3 linked regions of the Homo sapiens genome follow. The protein of the gene in region 1 interacts with the protein of each later gene in a pairwise test. Each region holds a gene or a part of one and is shown in the gene's direction. Other genes may lie near its edges. The genes, in order: PPP6R2, ANKRD28 and PPP6C.

Region 1 (7,110 bases):
AGTCATCCCTTTCCTAAGATGAGGATCGGTTAGGTACTTTTCTTTCTTTAATCAAGCACTGACTTCTAGGCTGGATTTTTTTTTTCTTTTTTTTTTTGAGATGGCGTTTCGCTCTTGTTGCCTGGGCTGGAGTGCAGTGGTGCAATCTCGGCTCACCACAACCTCCGCCTCTTGGGTTCAAGCAATTCTCCTGCTCACCCAGTCGGGTGAGCCACCACACCCAGCCTCTAGGCTGTTTTCTTCTTGTTGTTGTTGTTGTTTAAATAGAGATGAGGTCTCACTACATTGCTCAGGCTGGTCTCAAAAACCTGGCCTCAAGTGATCCTCCTACCTCAGCCTCCTAAAGTGCTGTGGTTACAGGAGTGAGCCACCATGCCTGGCCTACACTTTTTTTTCTTAACTGAAAAATAATCTATGTGTATTATAAAAATAGGACAGGCGCGGTGGCTCATGCCTGTAATCCCAGCACTTGGGGAGGCTGAGGCGGGCCGATCACTTGAGGTCAGGAGTTTTGAGACCAGCCTGGCCAACGTGGCGAAACCCTGTCTCTACTAAAAATTAGCGAAGTGTGGTGTCAGGTGCCTGTAATCCCAGCCACTCAGGAAGCTGAGGCACAAGAATCACTTGAACCCAGGAAGGGGAGCTTGCAGTGAGCCGAGATCACACCACTGTGCTCCAGCCTGGGCGACAGTGAGATTCTGTCTCAACAAACAAGCAAACCAAAGAACAATTCTAATAGAATTGTATCAGTCGTCTGTGACCGAATAGCAAATTACCCTGAAATGTAGTTGCTTATGGCAAGTATTTTTACCTGTAGCAGTATCAGTTTCTGTGGATCAGGCGTCTGAATGTGGCTTAGTGGCTCTTCTGTTGAGTCTCACAAAATACAGTCATCTCAGAGCTCCACTGGGGTAGAGGCCAGCTCCATGGTCACAGATGGCTTGGCAGCATCCAGTTCCTCAGGGCTGTGGGCCGAGGCCGCCCTCAGCATTGCACCACATGGGCGTCTCCACAGGGCAGCACACAACGTGGAGCTGAGCTTTCCCCTCACTCTTAATGTATTTGGCTCTTTAGACCTGGGTGGCTGGGTCCAGCCCACACTAAAAGAGATGGGGGCTATAAAGGCATGAACTCCAGGACGGGATTGCTAGGGGCCCCCTAGGAGCCACCCACCCTGGAAGCACCTAAGGTGACAATGGGGCTCCCTGTGGTGATCCCTGTTGAGAGTTTGGGGTATATCCCAGTAGGCCTTTTCCTAGCATTACACATACCGATCTATACATACAACCACGTGTCCTTGGCAGATTGGAAAACAGTGGTGCTGACTCGTGTCTGAGGCCTTCACCGCTGCCTGGCCAACCACCCTACTTTGTTCTCCATCAGCCCACAGGGCTGATCAGACAGACAGGAGAGGCCACGTTGGCGTCTGTAGGAAACAAGGAGGCCGCCCTGCCTGATGTTGGCGTCTGTAGGAAGCAAGGAGGCCGCCCTGCCTGAGAACTGGAGCCCACCCATGCATGTGGGTGTTGTGGGCTGATGGCCTGGCCTGGGTCCCAAAGGCAGACCTGAGAGCTAATCTGGCTGCTTTCTTTTCTCCCTAAAATACTCCTGTGAGTGTTTGCTTTCCCTCAGTCTTCCCACAGCATGTGAACCAATGCTGCAGGGAGTCAGGGGTTGTTTCTCTCTTAATCACATTTGTCTTACCTACAGAACAGCCCTACATTGTCAGCAGGGGCACGTTCCCATCACGGATTGCGTGTTAATGTTTCCCTAGAAAAGATGAGTCCTCTGTTTTCTTGGTAGCAACTTCCCTATTTTCATTAGCTTACAGGACTCATTCTGAATAATAGCAGCTACTTATTACCACATTTAAAATATAGTATCAGTAACATGGCCACATATTCAGCATATTTCAAAACGTGGATCACAGGTATAGCCCAGTATCTGCATTGCATATCTGACCATTATTAGCCCTGTTTTGAATTCCTGAAGATAGTTCAATGCAGCTTTAAAAAAAAGAAAACTCTAACCAGATCTACATTTTGACGACAGAAAAGGCAGACACAGGCTTCTTTGAAATGAAGCTGTTGTCTGGAATCTTTCTTTGTAGGAAACTGGTTTAGAGAAAGTCCCACATCTTTTTCTTTTTTTTTTTGAGATGGAGTCTCGCTCTGTCACCCAGGCTGGAGTGCAGTGGTGCGATCTTGGCTCACTGCAAGCTCCTTCTCCCAGGTTCAAGCCATTCTCCTGCCCTCAGCCAACCGAGTAGCTGGGACTACAGGCACCCGCCACCACGCCCGGCTAATTTTTTGTATTTTTAGTAGAGATGGGGTTTCACCGTGTTAGCCAGGATGGTCTTGATCTCCTGACCTGATGATCTGCCTGCCTTGGCCTCCCAAAGTGCTAGGATTACAGGCCTGAGCCATTGTGCCTGGCCAAAAGTCCCACATCTTAAAAAAAAAGAAAAAGTATTTGAACATCACAGTGGTATTGAACAACAACGAAAGTCTAGCATCTGCCAGAGAAGCAGCAGGACTTGTGCCCTGTGTGCCCAGCAGGGCTGGTCCTGCTGTTTCTTCTCCACACTGAGGGACTCTGTGTTTCCCTTGTCTTTTCAGAGGCAGTCAAATGCTTCTCAGACTCTCTGTGACATAGTTAGGCTGGGCAGAGACCAGGGCAGTCAGCTGCAAGAGGCTCTGGAGCCAGACCCGCTCCTCACAGCGCTGGAGTCGTGAGTGCTGGTGGGCCGTGGTGCTGGTGGGCCTCCCTTTCTGGGTCATGGGGACGTCTGTGAGCCTTGCTCTGAGCACCAGGATATGTTGCCACCTCCTCTGATTCACATTCGAATGAACCCCAGGTTCAGAGCCCATGTTAACTTGGGGCCTGTTTCCAGAGGGAGGGGTCTCCAGAGGAGTCACCTGGTGGGTCTAGAGAGTGGGCCAGCAGCAGCAGGAGTGTCCTGAGAACCCTGGCGCCTTGCCTTGAGCCTGAGCAGGTTGAGGGTTTTGCTGGGGTCCTCCACGGGGAGGAAGGAGCATCCTTGCATCCTTTGTGTGTGTGTCTGCTCTGCCAGGCAGTGACCTCTGTGTGTGTCCAGCAGGCAGGACTGTGTGGAGCAGCTTCTGAAGAACATGTTTGATGGAGACCGGACGGAGAGCTGCCTCGTCAGTGGGACTCAGGTGTTACTCACCTTGCTGGAAACCAGGCGGGTTGGGTGAGTCTCACGAGGAGAAATCGTGTAGAGCTGAACTTGACGCCTCAGTGATATGGCAGCCCACACGAGCAGTCTGGATTATGTCATTTGTGGTTTTAATTTTTGATTATGCAAGTAACAACATGGATAGATTCCCCTTGTTGAAGGCTTGACTTTATGGCTGTGGCCAAGTCCCCTTAGACCCTCATCATCACTGGTGCTCCCTCTCCAGCCTGAAGCTGCTCGTCACGACCAGTTGGCGATGCATTTGTCGATGTGCGTGGAACAGGTGTGGTTGGCAGGTTTTCCCCAAGGACTGTTCCGACAAGTCCCCACAGCTCCCGTGTGTGTTTGTGTGTGTGTCGCAGGGTTTCCACTCTGATGCATGGTTACATATACATGTGTTTATCTCCCATGCAGACTGGCCCTCACAGGGCAGGGGTGTGACACTCACCGCTGTCTCCCGTGCCCTGTGCACCCACGGGTCGGCACCGCCTGCTGAGCGTCGTGCTGAGCACTTTTTTCCCAGGCGACTCTCCTCCATTGCCCTTTCTCATTCATCAGGTGTCATTTCTGCACCCACTGTGCACTAACACGGGCCCGAGGAGACAGAGAACTGAGACACAGCCCCTCCCCTTTAATTGCTCCCAGTCTGGCACAGGAGGCCCGTCTGTGGACAGCGAGGGTGATGCAGAGTGGCGAGTGCAGTAGACATGCACCCAGTGCCTCGGGGCTCACAAGAAGGGACCCACATGGGGCTGGTGGGTGGAGCCTCGCAGTCAGGGACATTTTCCCTGAGAGGCCGCATCTGGTCAGACACAGCTCCTTGGATGAGGCAGTGAGGGGGTCCCAGTGTGGACACAAGCATGGGGCAGTATGTGGCAGAGGAGAGTGGAGCTTGCTTGGAGGTGCTCCTTTGCTGTGACCCCACATCGCTGTCCTGAGGTGCAGCTGTCGGAGGCTGCTGAGTCACGACAGTGAATGGGCAGAGACAGAGGAGTCAGCAGCAGAAGAGTGAGTTCGGGTGAAAGTTGAGTTTGTTTGAGGATATAGGTGCTGGAGACCCTTCTCTGACCCCCAGTAGAAATTTCAGGAAGTGTTTGAAACTGTTTCTCTGGATCATAGTGTGGCCTAGTCCTTCCCTCAAGTCATAGAAGGCTGGGCACTGCCAGAGCCGTTCAAGCAGTTGAAACTCCAAAGAGGATGCCCATGAGGCGCAAATGGAAAGACAGCCGAGTGGAGTCTGTGAGGGAGGCATTGGCACAAGGGGGTGTGGTTGGCCCGCCAGGTGCCCAGGAGATCCTATAGGGTGTGTCCCAAAAGGGCCACATCAGTGTCCTCTGGGCACTTCCCCTCCTGGCCTCACCCTGGCCCTTGAACCCCATCTCTGGATTCAGGTTCCCCACATGCCGGCAGGAACCTGATGTCTCAGGACGTTTCCGTCGTCTCCGTTCCATCACAGGCTGGGACGATGTCTAACTCTCCCAAGGTGGCCGTAGCTCCCTTATTTCCACGTTCTGGGGAGAACATAATTCAGCCCCCAACACTGATAGCCTGTGCTTTTTTAAAGTGAAAGAAAAAGGAACAATGAGAAAATGATAAGAAATTGACTTAACCTTGATAGTGAGGTTGTTAGGACTCTCTTTCTCTCTCTCTCTCTCTCTCTGTCTGTCTCTGGTAGTACCTAATACATATTTGTTAGTTTATTAACCAGAAGTAGTGTTATAATGTTACCGTTTTCTCTAGTTAGGCAACTGGAATATTGATATTTTAATCTTCATAAACCCAGGAAAGCTGAGCCACTTCTGAGGCCCAAGCTTAACCCTGTATGTGATAGAGGGGACTGTGTAAAAATCAGGAAAACAGAGATAAGCCAGCTGTTTCTCTTAGATTATTGTGATTATTATTATTATTATTTTCAGACAGTGTCTTGCTCTGTCACCCACGTGGGAGTACAGCAGCACGATCATATCTCAGCGTGGCCTCAGAGTCCTGAGCTCAAGCGATCCTCCCACCTGTCCCCCCCAAAGTGCTGGGATTATAGGTGTGAGCCACTGCACCTGGCTCTCTGATTTTTAAAATTATTTTGCATATTACTTTAAAAAATATATGATTACGTATTACTTTTACAACTGGAAAGAGTGTTTAAATAAATATCTCAGAAGACTTGCTTGAAAACACCACAGGGGGTAGGCGCAGTGGCTCACGCTTGTAATCCCAGCACTTTGGGAGGCCAAGGCGGGTGGATCACCTGAGGTCAGGTGATCGAGACCAGCCTGGCCAACATGGCAAAATCCTGTCTCTACTAAAAATACAAAAAGGAGGCTGAGGCAGGAGAATCGCTTGAACCCAGGAGGTGGAGGTTGCAGTGAGCTAAGATCGCACCATCGCACTCCAGCCTGGGTGACAGAGCGAGACTCTGGCTCAAAAAAAATAAAAATAAATAAAAATAAAAGTCGACACAGGAACAGTGAAAGAGACAGGGATAGCAGTGAAGGTTTTAAAAGTGGGACAGAGCAGGACCTCTAACTGGTGCTAGGGCCAGTGAGTCCTGTGTTGTGTCACTTGCCCTGCCTCCATATTCTCGGATGTCGCAAGCAAGCATCTGCCTGAAGGTCTTTAGTACCTTTCTCTTCTGCCTGTACCAGTCACCAGATCACGTGTGGAGACGCTGGGTAGCTGCACTGCTCTAGGGTTTCTTTTTGGGAAAGTTAAAAGGGCTCTTTCTGGAAGAAGCGGGTGCACTGAGTTGCTGGTGAGGTTGGACAGGGTCCTGGTGTCCCCGGTCTCCATCTGCTTTCCTCATCCACAGGACAGAGGGCTTGGTGGACTCCTTTTCTCAGGGACTGGAAAGGTCATACGCTGTCAGCAGCAGCGTACTACACGGCATCGAGCCTCGGCTGAAGGACTTCCACCAGCTCCTGCTCAACCCGCCCAAGGTAAATGGCCGTGGCGACTGCTGAGTGCCTTTGGAGGCGTCGCAGGAGAGGTTGATTTGCAGGGAGGAGAAGCCACAGCTTGTCCCATAGGTAGCAGAGTGTGGAGTGAATGTGTTCTAAGACGGCCATTCCCACACCCCCACTTGAGAAGCACCGGGCAGGTGCCAAAACACATTTTCAGGACTGCCCCTCCCAGATCTGCAAATGCTCATCTCTGCCTCTGCAAATGACCCCGAGGTCACCATAAGCCTGGCCTCCAAGTTGGGGGCACCTAGCTAAGGGGTGCTCGGCTCCTGAGAGGGGACCAGGGGGTGGCAGGGGAGGCCCTTTGCCCTGCTCAGCAGCATGTTGAGGGGGGTGAGGCACACAAAGGCTCCTCCTGGTTCAGACTGCCAGCCAGGCAACTCCCCATCCCGTCTCACCCTCCCCAGACACAACCCGACCCCTGCTGCATAGCACCCTCCTGACCTATAGCTCAGTTCCTCTCACTCGCCACCTTGGTAAGATCCACCTGTCCCACTAGCGAGCTCTGTGGGGGCCAAGATTCTGTTTTGTCAGCTGGAGGTTTCAGTGAAGAGAAGGTAGGTGCAGTAGGCTGAGTGTGGGGGATCAGAAAAGACCGCGGTCCATCGGAGGAGGCATTCCCGTCAGTGTCCCCAAAGTGTGTTCATGGGACACTTGTTAGCTTGGTGTTCTGAGATTGTGGCCGCAGAGGGACCCCCACTGGGCATCCTCAGTGAGGCATCGTGCCAAGGGCTCTGGCCTTAGACCGGTACTGCTGGCCCCATCTTGGACATCTCACCCGCTGAGGTGCACGGCTCTCTGGCCCTGCAGGCTCAGACTGGAGTGCCCGTGAGCATCCTGGGAGCACTCTCTGAAGCCCTGAGGGGAGCAGCAGGCTCTTCACCCCATTGATGCCTTCATTTCTTCTGGCAGACGGCCCTCCCTGAGGAACCCCCACCACATACCTCGCTACCC
Region 2 (7,110 bases), on another chromosome or scaffold:
TCTATCCAATACTTTTTTTCAATTTCTGATATATAATATTTCCAGTTAATTGTCTTTAAAATTTTGACCTTTTTTTTTTTCAAATCATATATGGATTATTTGACCTCACCAAATAACTTTATTCACACAAATGAATTTACAAAGCCTCCGTCATTCATAAACATTAGGAGTATCCCAGTGTTCAGGGAACTTAAATACAGTGTATTATATCAACCCAAGTAAACCAAGCACAAAAAATATTCATATAAAGTTGTTTACATGTAGGTCCTAGACTACCAGCTTCTGTGTGAAAAAGGAAATAAAAATAGATTTATTAACTAGTGTTTGAAACTAACTTTGTGCCTGGCTTAAAACCTCCCTCATGCTCCAGCCTGTCCCACACAAGTGTTTAAGAAGTCATTAAAACTGTCCTGCTCTCATGAAAAGAAGCTCCTCTGCACAAAAGATGTAAGTGCCCCCAAGTAGCTCCCTTCCTCCTGTGGCCTCTCTTGGAAAACAACCTTGGCAGCCTCCTTGCTGATACCTTCTGCAATTTTAGGGGCCCCTCAGGGGGCAGTGGCAGTGGATTCATCTTTTGATGATGGCTGCAGATGCTAACATTGGCCAATTCTATGTCACACCTACTGGTTACTCTTTGAAGGCATTTCTCCAGACAGAAGCCCCACTACCGTCAAAGCTTAGGTAGGGCAGGATCAGAGAGGCGCCTGTGTTGTTTTGAAGGTTGTGCTACAGCCTGGACTTATCTCTGGACTTCTCCCTCTAAAACCCAGTGGCCCAAAGAGCTGAAAAATGTCAGCTTGGCTCTTCAAAAGTTTCCAGACCCAAGGAGATTACCAAGAGCTACAACTGTCTGGGGAAATTTTTGACTTTAAGTGGTAAAATGATTGTATTCTCAGGGAATACCAACAACAAGACTATCATCACTTAAAACATTATCTGCCTTAGAAGTTGGGTTTATGTAATAATCTAACTTCTGAAACACTTTATCAACAAAACAATGCAGTATTTATTTCTTTCTGGTAGAAGTTATTTTGGATTGGTATAATCTTTCATTTAACAAGTGATACACGTTTTGACTTATTTTACCAGTGTACTGCATTAAACATTTATGCAGACAGGCTTTACAGAGCACTTTATGCAAGAACTATTCCATATTGTGATATTATGATGTAGCAGATACGTTAAAATACGAAGGTCTATAACCAAGTCAGTTAAATGACTTGCTACCCACTGCGTATCACTGGCAGATGCAGATTCACAACTCTCTATTTTTATAGAGTGATCCTTAAGAATACATTTGAATATATGTCTTGGATTTTTTTTCTAGTCCTTTGGGAAGCTTACATTTTAGAAGACTATTGATAACACCCACTGTTACTCCCAGAGCCGCCCTTCAAAGCTATCAGATGTTCAAGTGGGGCTGAGAAAAATATTTTAATAATACATTAGAACCTCTAATAAACATATATACACTACTATATGGTTTGAACAAGAGGTTAAAATGCATTACTTGCTGTTACCTTATTCTGAAAAAGAGTGAAGTTATATATCACTTTGCAAAGCCAAACTTGGTGGCGCATGCCTGTATTCCCACCTAACTTGGGAGGCTGAGGCAAGAGGGTCACTTGAGTTCAGTTTCATTGCACTCTAGGCAACATGATGAAACCCTGTTCCTAAAATATAAAATAAAAATCAATTTTGTACACTGGATGGGATCTGTGAAAAATAAGTACATTTTAAAAATATTAATCTATAGCTAGAAAAATTATAATTGCAGATCATATGCAGAACTAATTTAAAGCTTGCATGGAGTGGTTGCACTCTCAATAGGTAAATATTGAACTGAGACATTAGCCAGTCCCTTAGAAGTAGTTAACCAATGCCATATAGTTCAGCATAAATCCTACCCACAAAAAGAACCACAGGTTACTCTTAGTGCCTATCTATTCAATAAATGCAAGCCTTGTATCTATAGATGCCTTTCAAATTTGGAGGTCTATAGAGAGCATCTATAAGCCATGAAAAGAACACTGAGGGTTTTTTTTCCTGGAGGTTTACCAGTCATTTCCCACAGAGATGCTGTGCTTGCTGTTTGGGTATTGAACTTAGATGACACAAACATTCATCAGTAGCGACTGTGAACTGAGTGTAAATGAACTGATTTGAAAAATGATGGGCCAAACAAGTTCTTCTTGAACATCCCCAAGTGTTACGACCCTGTTTTTTGTTGCTAAGCTGTGAGAGCTGCTGGCAGAGTGCAGCATACAGATTGGACTAGGGTAGGAGAGGTGATTTAAGCCACAAGTTTAATAACTATTAGTATTTAATATAACTGTGGGAACATACTGTGGAATATTCAGCACCTAGCTTGCTTTTGCTAGTTTTGTCATCTTTTAATTAGAAGAAATAGTGATAGACGTTCTTTTCTGTATCATATGCAAGATACATTTTTTTCTAATGTATTTCTTTAAACTTCAGACTTTGTATATATTAACAGGACCTGAATTTTGCAGAGGATTTAACTTACTTCAAAAGCTCTTTTCTTTGGACTACTTCTACTTGTACCCTTGCCCATTTTATGCATTTGGACTTAACACATGCATTCTTTAGATGGATCATTTTTCTTGTACTGTATGTATATATATATATATCATTTGAAATTATTTCAGCCATAAATAACAGAGTACCCTACTGAAAATAGCTTAAGGGGTTTAGTGTCTCATATACAATGTCGAAAGGCAGGCTGGGCACGGTGGCTCATGCCTGTAATCCCAGCACTTTGGGAGGCCGAGGTGGGTGGATCATGAGGTCAGGAGTTCAAGACCAGCCATGCCTAGATGGTGAAACCTCATCTCTCCTAAAAATACAAAAAAAATCGCCGGGTGTGGTGGCAGGCGCCTGTAATCCCAGCTACTTGGGAGGCTGAGGCAGAGAATTGCTTGAACCCAGGAGGCGGAAGTTGCAGTGAGCCAAGATCACACCACTACACTCCAGCCTGGGCGACAGAGCGAGATTCTGTCTCAAAAAAAAAAAAAAAGCAATATCAGGCAGATGCAGTTCCAGGGTTGGTTGATTCTACAACGGTGTCAGAGCTCTGGATTAAATTCTGTTATTCTCTTACATTTGCATTCATGTTGTGGGATTATTGCTGCTGCTTTTAAGGATTGCATCTAAAATCAGGAAGGAATGGGGGCTTTTCATTATTAAAGATAAAAGTATTTCCCAGCAGCCTCTAGACTTATCGGCATCTCAGTAGTCAGACCTGGTTCCTGTGCTGCTCACCTTAAAACTGATCACTGTCAGAGGAGAATGGGGTTCTTGTGATTGACTTGGTCTAATCATGGTATCATCCCTTTGCTGGAGTCAAGGCACTCTTCCTGACCACATTGCCAGAGAGCTAAATAAAATGAGCATTCTTTTAGAGGCAGATGATAGGGCATGGGTGCTGGGTAGGCGGTCTGCCTGTCATGTTTTACTGTGAGGAATTCACATTTATTCCAGCTTTAACAGTCAAAGGCCGTAGAAACCTTCTTTTTACCTATAGTTTTCATTCTTGCATATTAAATTCAGTGCAACTATCCCAAAAGTAAATTCTAGAAGATGTGCTTTTAGATGGACATTTTCTATTTTATCATTATATGTAATTACTGAAATGTTTAAATTTCACTTTACAGCAACAAATGGTCATTCAGAATGCTTACGGCTATTAATAGGAAATGCAGAACCACAGAATGCAGTGGATATTCAAGATGGAAATGGACAGTAAGTTTCGATAAATAATTGTTGCATCACAGAAGGGCGTATTTCGAAAACCAGAGTACAGTCTTAAGTGACAGCACTGAACCTATTCCTGTTGTTGCTCAGGACGCCTCTGATGCTATCTGTTCTCAACGGGCACACAGACTGTGTTTACTCATTGCTGAACAAAGGAGCAAATGTAGATGCCAAAGATAAGTGGGGAAGGACAGCGTTGCATAGAGGGGTAAGCAGAAATATGCTCTTTCCTTTCAAAAAGCTTTTATGACCTCATATTACCTAGAACTGAACTAGGTTATGTTTATTTTTTCTTCATTAAATGTTCGTCAAATAGTCTTTACCATTTCTTTCAGTATCTTAGTTTTTAAATGCTAATTTTGAACAATTACAGAGTACAACTTAATCTAGAGAACAATGTTAGAACAAAATTTTAAAACTCTAAAACTTTTAGTAGAATTAATGTCAATTTGACTTTTTCCATTATCTCACTTATTTTCTTATACACTTTAATCTTTTTTCACCTTTGAAATATCATTATTTTCATTGAATACCAAGTTTCTCTCTTCCTGTTTTCATACTATTTGCATTTTAGAAGGGTTCTTGCTTTAACTGAATTTTTAAACCACTTCCAATAAAAATACAGAATTACTCATAAAATGATAAATGGCTTTAATTGATGGAAGGATATGGAGAGTATGGTCTTTAAAGTTTTTAATTAGCTGAAATTGGCATGTAATGTTTAGCATAATATGTTTGACTACCTTTAAATTATTTTCTTTCAGGCAGTTACAGGCCATGAAGAATGTGTAGATGCATTACTTCAACATGGTGCTAAGTGCTTACTTCGGGATAGCAGGGGCCGGACGCCTATACACCTGTCTGCTGCCTGTGGACACATTGGTGTTCTTGGAGCCCTTTTGCAGTCAGCAGCATCTATGGATGCAAATCCAGCCACAGCAGACAATCATGGATATACGGCACTTCACTGGGCTTGCTACAATGGTTAAGTATACAAACACAAATGCATATCATTGTGTAGTGAACAGAGATAAAAGAATGACATATTTATAAGGCAAATTTTAAGTTTAAAATTAGCAAAAACCTTGGGAATAATCTACTGTATAGGCTCACGTACTAATAATACTTAGTACGTAGGCTCACTCCTGTCCTTTGTCATGCTAAAGCCAAGACACTAGTTGTCAAAGGTGTTCTGAGATAAGCCATGAAGTATTTTTGAGGTTTTTCTTTTCTTTTCTTTTCTTTTTTAGTTTTGGTAGGATCTTGCTATGTTGCCCAGGCTGGTCTTGAACTCCTGGCATCAAGTGATCCTCCCACCTCAGCCTCCCAAAGTGTTGGGATTACAGGCATGAGCCACCATGTAGCCTGAAGTTTTTCTTAGATCCTTATTTCCACAAATATTTTGCATTTTTAGGAGGTTTTTAGAATGTTTCCATTGCTTTTATATAGTGTGCTTGTATTTTGATTGTGTTCTTTTACTATTTTTTTTTTTTTAAGAGTCCCACTATGTTGCCCAGGCTGGTCTTGAACAACTGGGCTTAAGCAATCCTCCCACATCAGACTCCCCAAGTGCTAGGATTACAGGCATGAGCCATTGCACCCAGCCATGTTCTTTTACTTTCTAAATACAATCATATTAGGGGAAAAATAACCAAAAGTAGGAGAAACAGTGAGATGTATCACATTCTAAACTGAAATCTATGTATGTTTTCTGAGCACATTGCAAGATAACATTCTTATATTACCAGTAATATCCATGTTCAATGTTTTAAAGGAATAAATCCCTAGCAGGTCTTAGAATTAGAAACTTTGATGGGTTAACTCTGCTACATGGTTAAAAGAGATTTTCTTTGGCCTCCTACAGGCTCACAGTCACAGTCATCGCTTTTATAGGTAGACTCATAAAAGGTCACGTAGGGAAGCATAAAGCTACTTTGAAGTTATAGATGTTAAAAATGCAGTTTGGCTTATGAAATGCCACTAATTAAAATAATTTATGCAATGAAGCATGTTGAGATATTTTTAGATTTGATCATCTTAGAAAACTCAAGTACATTATATACAGTGCAAGCATCAGTGTTGTCAAAGTTCAAGCTTCAGGCTTTAGTAGAGAAATTAGAGGTTTTTAAAATTTGTTTTCAATTTCAGTGTAGCTTCAAGATTAATGTTAATTATGACAGCAGATCTACAAAGCTGTAGTTCACAATTCTAATAACCTTCCCTCAAAATGCAGAGAAAATATAAGTTGTCTCTTTATATAAATACCCATTTGCTAAAAATAAATAAGTATAATATCTGTTGTAAAATCAGACTGCCTTACCAGGAAGTTGAGATTTCCTATCTTTCTATAATATGCTGTTTCATAGTTCTTTCACTGGGAGCTGTTCTGACAAAGTTATCAAGTTAAAGCAAAAGAGGAAAAAGCTGAATCTTGTAAAATTATAACTTCATTAAATGTTTCCACAAGTATTTCTGAGATACAATATTTTGATTTTCATATTAGTCCTTATGCCAAAGTTGGGAGTTGTATTCTTTTGCCGTTAGAACATTTTGGGTTCTTGAGGTTTGTCCTGTTATACTGTTGGTTATCCTTCAGCTGAGTACTGATAGCACCATAAAAACTTGAATAGTTAAATCTGTTGCTCATTGAACAAGCTAGTTTAGTCTCTTTGTTTTTTACTACCTTAAATCCTTAACCAAAACAGTTTTGAAAACTATAAAACCTTTGGGGTTTAACTTCTCTTTTTCCCATTTCTACTCGCTAAGGCAAGTAGAAATGAGTGTAGTGAAGTGGCCAGAGACTAGTACTCATACTAGAACAAAGAAGATACTGTATTTTGCCATTGATGTTTGATTTGTTTCTGTAATGTGACTTGACATTTTACAAGTATAAGGAAAACCCAAAATATCTAATATAGTGGGAAAATATCTACAATTGTGAGTTGTGTTTCTGTAAAAAAGTCAGTGAGATAAAACTGTTCAGAAGCAAAGACTTACTGCTTGGTTTTTAAAAAAATATATCCCTGAAGATTAACCATTGGAAAAATCACACAGTGAGATATTTTTCCTCAGGAAGAGCATTTAGTTGTAAATGTACTGCTGTAACTGTCCTTTGGAGAGTTGCTTTCTATTACAGTGTTTGTTATCAGATCTATATGTAGAACATTTTCCCTAAAGTGAGTTCCTACTCTATCACTGCTAAATTTAGACTCTAAGCACGTTTTGTGCAAGAGACAGAATTTTGCAAGAACTGCATGCCTGGTTGCCATTTAAAGATCATAACAAATGTGTCTGATTTTCAGCCTGTAGCAAAATTGTGGTGATGCTGAATTTGAG
Region 3 (7,110 bases), on another chromosome or scaffold:
TTTTAGACCATTTTATTTCTTGTTGAAACATAGCTGCATTGTACTTGACTTGTATTTGTTTCTTTTTTTTTCTTAAAAAAATTTTTAATCTTTTTTTTGGTGGGGGAGCGGGGACATGGTCTCACTCTCACCCATGCTGTAGTGTGGTGGCACAATCATGGCTCATTGCAGCCTCGACCTCCTGGGCTCAGGCAGTCCTCCCACCTTAGCCTCCTGAGAAGCTGGGACCACAGGCACATGCCCCCATGACCAGCTAATTTTTATTTATTTTTTTGGTAGAGACAGGGTCTTGCTATGTTACCCAGGCCAGTCTTGAACTCCTGGGCTCAAGCGATCCTCCCACCTTGGCTTCCCAAAATGCTGGGATAACAGGCATGAGCCACTATACTTGGCCTGTATCCATTTCTTAATAAACTTAAAAATATATGTTTTGGGCAACCAAGACAAAAGTATTCTGAATTTTTCTTTATAGGTAGAGACTTTTTTTTCTGTCTTGGAAATGCTTTTATCAGATTAATTTGTTGTGTTGCTCATCTCTGGTGTATTTAAAGAAATTTAATTTTTTTCTGTTTCTTGGCATGAAGTGCAACCTAAAATTAGGCCAAGAAAGTATGCCAGGAGTACTTTTTCTGAGGCTGTAAAGGCAAAATAAAACATTCTATTAAGAAAAGTAATCATTGAGGCCACTTAATGAGCAAGATGGAAAAGATTTGTTCTGTAGAAAAGAAGACAGAAATTTACTTGTGTTTTAAATTGATTAGAAGATAAAATACTAAATGCATACGATGTTCCAGATTTAATCACAATTTCTGTTTCGCTAAGTTGGAAATGGTCACATCACTAGTACTGGATCAAATCTACATAACTGTTTTTGTTTGTTTGTTCGCTCTTGTTGCTCAGGGTGGAGTGCAATGGCGTGAGCTTGGCTCACTGCAACCTCTGCCTCCCGGGTTCAAGCGATTCTCCTGCCTCAGCCTTCCTGAGTAGCTGTGATTACAGGCATGTGCCACCACGCCCAGTTAATTTTGTATTTTTAGTAGAGACCAGGTTTCCCCATGTTGTTCAGGCTGGTCTCGAACTCCTCACCTCAGATGATGCACCCACCTCGGCCTCCCAAAGTGCTGGGATTATAGGTGTGAGCCTGGCCTGTTAGTTTGTTTTTTTGAGACGGAGTCTTGCTCTGTTGCCCAGGCTAGAGTGCAGGTGCACGTTCTCAGCTCACTGCAACCTCCGCCTCCCGGATTCAAGCGATTCTCCTGCCTCAGCCTCCTGAGTAGCTGGGATTACAGGCACCCACCACCACTCCTGGCTAATTTTTGTATTTTTAGTAGAGATGGGGTTTCACCATGTTGGCCAGGCTGGTCTCAAACTCCTGACCTCAGGTGATCCACCCTTCTCAGCCTCCCAAAGTGCTGGGATTACAGGCGTGAGCCACCATGCCTGGCATACATAACAGTTTTGAAGGAATAAGAATGACATATGTGGGCCGGGAGGCTGAGGCAGGAGAATTGCTTGAGCCTGGGAGATGGAGGTTGCAGTGAGCCGAGATCATGCCACTGCACTCCAGCCTGGCCAACAGAGCGAGACCCTGTCTCAAAAAAAAAAAAAAATGACATATGTGAAAGTAAATGGACCACAGTGTAACCTTTCTTATAAAGAGCTCATGTGATTTTATCCACAAGAAAGATTTCAGAGAGATTAATAAAAGATACAGATTCCATACCTGGCTAAATGGAAGAATTAATGATAAAGGCAGGTTTACTGAATACTTATATTTAAGTATTAATATTTTTGGGGAGCAGGGGTTCTATAACTTGGAGGTTGTCTAATCTCTTGGACAGTTCTTAAGGGTGACATGTTTACCTGAGGTTTTTTTTTTTTTTTTTTTTTTGAGACTGAATCTAACTCTATTGCCCAGGCTGGAGTACAGTGGTACCATCTCAGCTCACTGCAGTCTCCACCTCCTGGGTTCAAGCAGTTCTGCCTCAGCTGGGATTACAGGTGCGCACTACCACACCCAGCTAATTTTTGTATATATATATTTTTTGGTAGAGATGGGGTTTCACCATGTTGGCCAGGCTGGTCTCGAACTTCTGGCCTCAGGTGATCCGCCCACCTCGGCCTCCCAAAGTGTTGGGATTACAGATGTGAGCCACTGTGTTTGGCCATTCCTTATTTGTGTTTTCCACAATTTTAGAACACTGCCCTGTATGTGATAATCAGTAAAGGTTTATTGACTCAAACTGTTTACTGCTTTATGACAAATACTTGTTTCTTCTTCTTCTTTTTTTTTTTTTCTTTGAGGTAGGGTCTCAGTCTGCTGCCCAGGGTGGAGTGCAGTGGTGCAGTTGTAGCTTGCTGCAACCTCAAACTCCTGGGCTCAATTGATCCTTCTGCCTCAGCCTCAAAAGTAGCTGGGAGTACAGGTGTGCAATAGTGTGCCCAGCTGATTAATTATTATTTTTATTTTTGAGATGGAGTCTCACTCTGTCACCAGGCTGGAGTGTAATGGCGCGATCTCGGCTCACTGCAACCTCTGCCTCCTGGGTTCAAACAATTCTCCTGCCTCAGCCTCCCAAGTAGCTGGGACTACAGATGCATGCCACCATGCCTGGCTAGTTTTTTGGTATTTTTGGTAAAGATGGGGTTTCACTGTGTTTGCCAGGATGGTCTCAATCTCCTGACCTCGTGATCCACCCGCCTTGGCCTCCCAAAGTGCAGGGATTATAGGCGTTAGCCACCGCGCCTGGCAAAAAAAAAATTTTTTTAAGGGATAGCGTCTTGCTATGCTGTCCAGGCTGGTCCCAAATGCTTCAGGTGATTCTCCTGCCTTGGCCTCCCAAAATGCTGAGATTATAGGTGTGAGCCACTGTGCCCAGCCAACAAACACTTATTTACATGGTTCCTTGTGTTGAGTACTGTTCCCTGTGGGTGCCAGGGGCAGAATTGGATACTTGTGTCTGCCTTTGAGGGGCTTTCAATATAGTAAGGGAGGTAAGGAGGTAAACAAAGACTGTAATAGAGGCTGACCAGGGTGTTGGCAAACAGAAGAAGCAGTATGTAACTTTAGAGTCAGAGATGATTTCATAAAGGAGCAGTTACGAGGGGCAGAGTTCAGGTAGACAAAATGAGAAGGAAAGAACATGCAAACAGAATAAACACCATGTGCAATAGTATAATGTAATTTGCAAGAACATGGCTGGTTCGGGGAACTTGAAGTGGTTTGGTATGGCTGGAGGTGGTACTGGAAAGAAAGATGCCAAATCATAGAAGAGTAGGCTGTTAAACTTAGATTGTTATTTTTTAGGTGGTGCATGAACACTATGAAATGTTTTTATATTTTAGGGAAAAATCATACTGTGATTCGTGATACTGTTTAAAATGTAGCTAACTAAAAATAAAAGTAGATTCAAAGAAAATTATTACAGGGATACACTGTTGTATGTGGTAGGAATATGACAAAATAATGAAAATGGTATTTGGTGTTTGGGAAACACTGCCATAAATGGAGGAATACGCTTGAGGAGTTTTTAAGAAGGAGAATGACAGTAGGCTTTTGAAATGTTTATTCTGGCAGCATTGTGGACCATGGATTGGAATGCAGGAAAAATGTCATAGAAGCAGTAGGCCCGGTGATATGAGAGTCTGAGATAAGGCAATGATAAGTGATTGTTGTGTTGGAAAGGAAATGAAGAAGGTATAGTGGCACCTGTTAACAGATTTGGTCTAGGTTATGATGAAGAGAGTTTAGCATAATTTTTTAGTTTCTGGCAAGGATTACTTAGTACTATAACTAGATTAAGGAATACGGGAAGTTTGGTTTGGGCCATATTGAGTTTGAGATGCTGCCAAGCTAAGACATTGAGATAGAGGTGTCCAGAATTACTCTTGGATACTTATGTTACTTAGATAACAACTACTTGTTGATTGCCAAATGTGCTCTAAACACTGTTCTAATAGTATTAAACGCAGGAGAAAGATCTAGACCAGTCGTTCTCAACTGGGGGCAATTTTGCCCCCCAAAGAATTTTTGGCAGTGTCTGGAGACATTTTTGGTTGTCACAGCTGGGTCAGGGGAGGGGTGGGAAGTTACTATGGGTATCTAGTAGGCGTAGATGTCGGAGATTTTGCTAAACATCCACAAGACAGCAAGCAGTCCCCTGCAATGAATAATTAGTAGTGCCATGGTTGAGAAACTCTGATCTGGCCTGAGGATACAGATACTACCTTCTGGATCATAAGCGTGTGAATATCATGGTCATTCCAGATTTCTAACTTCTCATTCCCAGTGATCTGTATTATAGTAGAGACTTTATATAAAGACTGTGTGAAATATAATGTTAGCTAGATATTTATTTAGTTAGTTACTTAGCTAGCTAGTTGAGATGAGGTTTTGCTATGTTGCCCAAGCTAGTCTTGAGCTCTGGGCCTCCAGCCATCTTCTTGCCTTGGCCTCCCAAAATGCTCATTTTACAGGTGTGAGCCACCACACCTGGCAGTGAGATCTTTTTTTTTAAAGCTAAGAGTGTTTTATAAATACCAGTATGTAAAAGTAGATAAAGGAAGTAGTATGTTTTAGATAACAAGATCAACTAAACAAGTAATTTTAAAAGTTTAGAACCCAGTGTTTGTGAGGGCAAGAGGGAACTGGGAGACAGAACAGAGAATAGAATGGAACTGTGAACAAATGTCTTGAGGAAAAGGTAGAGAAGAGACATAGAGGTCTGCTAAGAATGATGGCTATGAACCCCTTCCTGTTCAAGGATTAGAAAGTAGTTGGGCACCAAACATATGAAAAAGAGCACTGGTCATTAAAGAAATGCAAATCAAAACCGCAATGAGATACCATCTCACGCCAGTTAGAATGGCAATCATTAAAAAGTTAGGAAACAACAGGTGCTGGAGACGATTTGGAGAAATAGGAACACTTTTACACTGTTGGTGGGAGTGCAAATTAGTTCAACTGTTGTGGAAGACAGTGTAGCGATTCCTCAAGGATCTAGAACTAGAAATGCCATTTGGCCCAGCAATCCCATTACTGGGTATATACCCAAAGGATTATAAATCATTCTACTATAAAGATGCATGCACTTGCATGTTTACTGCAGCACTATTCACAATAGCAAAGACTTGGAACTAGCTCAAATGCCCATCGATGATAGACTGGTTAAAGAAAATGTGGCACATATACACCATGGAATACTTTGCAGGGACATGGATGAAGCTGGAAACCATCATTCTCAGCAAACTAACACAGGAACAGAAAACGAAACACCGCATGTTCTCACTCGTAAGCGGGAGTTGAACAATGAGAACATATGGGCAGAGGGGAGGGGAACATCACATGCTGGGGCCTGTCAGGGGGTCCGGGGTAAAGGGAGGGATATCATTAGGAGAAATACCGATTGTAGATGATGGGTTGATGGGTGCAGGAAACCACCATGGCACGTGGATACCTAAGTAACAAACCTGCACGTTCTGCACATGTGTCCCAGAACTTAAGTATAATAAAAAATAAATAAATAGAAAACAGAACACAAAAAAAGAAAGAAAAAATATTTGGGCACGATGAGGAGAAAGGGGTATAGTTTACCCTAAATTTGGGATAAAGCTGTAAAGGGTTTGGGAGGAGAGGAGCATGTGTCTTTACTATGATGACAAGGCAGGGCTCTTTGAGGCCGCTGTGAGTGTAGTTGATTGAGTCACGTAGCGTTTATAGTGAGATTGCATAGACTTCTTATTTTTGTGTGCGCGTGATAGCGATTTGTAAGCTACTGCCAAACTAGAGATGAGAGGCAATAGCTTTGGCTTAGAGACATAGCTCTCTAAATCCTCAGTTGGGGTCAGCAGAGGTGGCAGTCGTAGGACGCAGCTGTAATTTTACTCTAGTTAGTGTGCCTGGGCCCTGGTTGAAGGCTGCTGCTAGGTAGTTTACACGTGTTCTCCAGACACTCAATCTTTCAGATTGACAGAGTTTCACAGCGATGTTCTTCAGTTTATAGTCCACTGTTATTTTCAGGCTAGCACATAGTGTATGGGGTGATAACCAGGGATGACTTCAAGTTTAGGAGGCCTTATGGACTAGGAGAACCAGTTACATGTCAGCGAAAATTCTGGCACATTGAAATATGGGAACCGGCCAGACACAGTGGCTCACGCCTGTAACCCCAGCACTTTGGGAGGCTAAGGTGGGTGTATCACCTGAGGTCAGGAGTTTGAGACCAGCCTGGCCAACATGGCGAAACCCTGTCTCTACTAAAAATACAAAAATTAACCAGGCATGGTGGCGTGTGCCGTAATCCCAGCTACTGGGGGGCTGAGGCAGGAGAATCGCTTGAACCTGGGAGGCGGAGGGTGTAGTGAGCCAAGATCACGCCATTGCACTGCAGCCTGGGTGACAAGAGCGAAACTCCATCTCAAAAAAAGAAAAAATTACAGGCCAAACTTAGAATCATTCATCAGTTCCTGGCATATTTGTTCTTTAATGCAAATAGGTTGCAAACTTTGGATGCTAATTATTATAAAAATAAATATGTATCATAGGTCTAATGGATTATTAATAGAAGTAGGATGCTGTGCAACACTGATATTTTGAAATTGACTGGAAAGACAGCCGTCTATCCACAAGGACTAACTGGATTGAGTGGTTGTGGTCAAGGTTGTGATTATTATTATTTATGAGGTAATACATAGGGCTGTGGGGTGTTGGTATGGGGATGAGGGGAGTGACTGCTAATGTGTATATGGTTTCTTTTTGGGGTGATGAAAGTGTCCTAAAATTGATTATGGTGATGGTTGCCACCACTGTGAATATAATGAAAACCATTGACTCTTACCCTTCAAAGGGATGCATTTTATGTAGGTGAATTATGTTGCAATAGTTGTTTTAAAAAATTATATTCGGGCTGGGTGTGATGCTCACACTTGTAATCCTAGCACTTTGGGAGGCTGAGGCGGGTGGATCACCTGAGGTCAGGAGCTCGAGACCAGCCTGGCCAACGTGGTGAAACCCCATCTCTACTAAAAATATAAAAATTAGCTGGGTGTGGTGGCAGGTGCCTGTAATCCCAGATACTTGGGAGGCTGAGGCAGGAGAATCGCTTGAATCTG

The links.
Region 2: the proteins of PPP6R2 (region 1) and ANKRD28 interact in binary tests that used the Homo sapiens proteins (3 or more experiments, as listed by UniProt).
Region 3: the proteins of PPP6R2 (region 1) and PPP6C interact in binary tests that used the Homo sapiens proteins (3 or more experiments, as listed by UniProt).

The regions. Positions count from the first base shown.
Region 1 is NC_000022.11:50,416,249-50,423,358, forward strand, and holds part of PPP6R2 (serine/threonine-protein phosphatase 6 regulatory subunit 2), read left to right. Parts: intron 1-2,618; coding exon 2,619-2,731; exon of another isoform or gene 2,732-2,741; intron 2,742-3,097; coding exon of another isoform or gene 3,098-3,100; coding exon 3,101-3,214; intron 3,215-6,005; coding exon 6,006-6,132; intron 6,133-7,110. UniProt on the Homo sapiens protein: Regulatory subunit of protein phosphatase 6 (PP6). May function as a scaffolding PP6 subunit. Involved in the PP6-mediated dephosphorylation of NFKBIE opposing its degradation in response to TNF-alpha.
Region 2 is NC_000003.12:15,682,874-15,689,983, reverse strand, and holds part of ANKRD28 (serine/threonine-protein phosphatase 6 regulatory ankyrin repeat subunit A), read left to right. Parts: intron 1-95; exon of another isoform or gene 96-1,637; coding exon of another isoform or gene 1,638-1,673; intron 1,674-3,674; coding exon 3,675-3,762; intron 3,763-3,864; coding exon 3,865-3,982; intron 3,983-4,538; coding exon 4,539-4,758; intron 4,759-7,110. UniProt on the Homo sapiens protein: Regulatory subunit of protein phosphatase 6 (PP6) that may be involved in the recognition of phosphoprotein substrates. Involved in the PP6-mediated dephosphorylation of NFKBIE opposing its degradation in response to TNF-alpha.
Region 3 is NC_000009.12:125,179,748-125,186,857, reverse strand, and holds part of PPP6C (serine/threonine-protein phosphatase 6 catalytic subunit), read left to right. Parts: intron 1-7,110.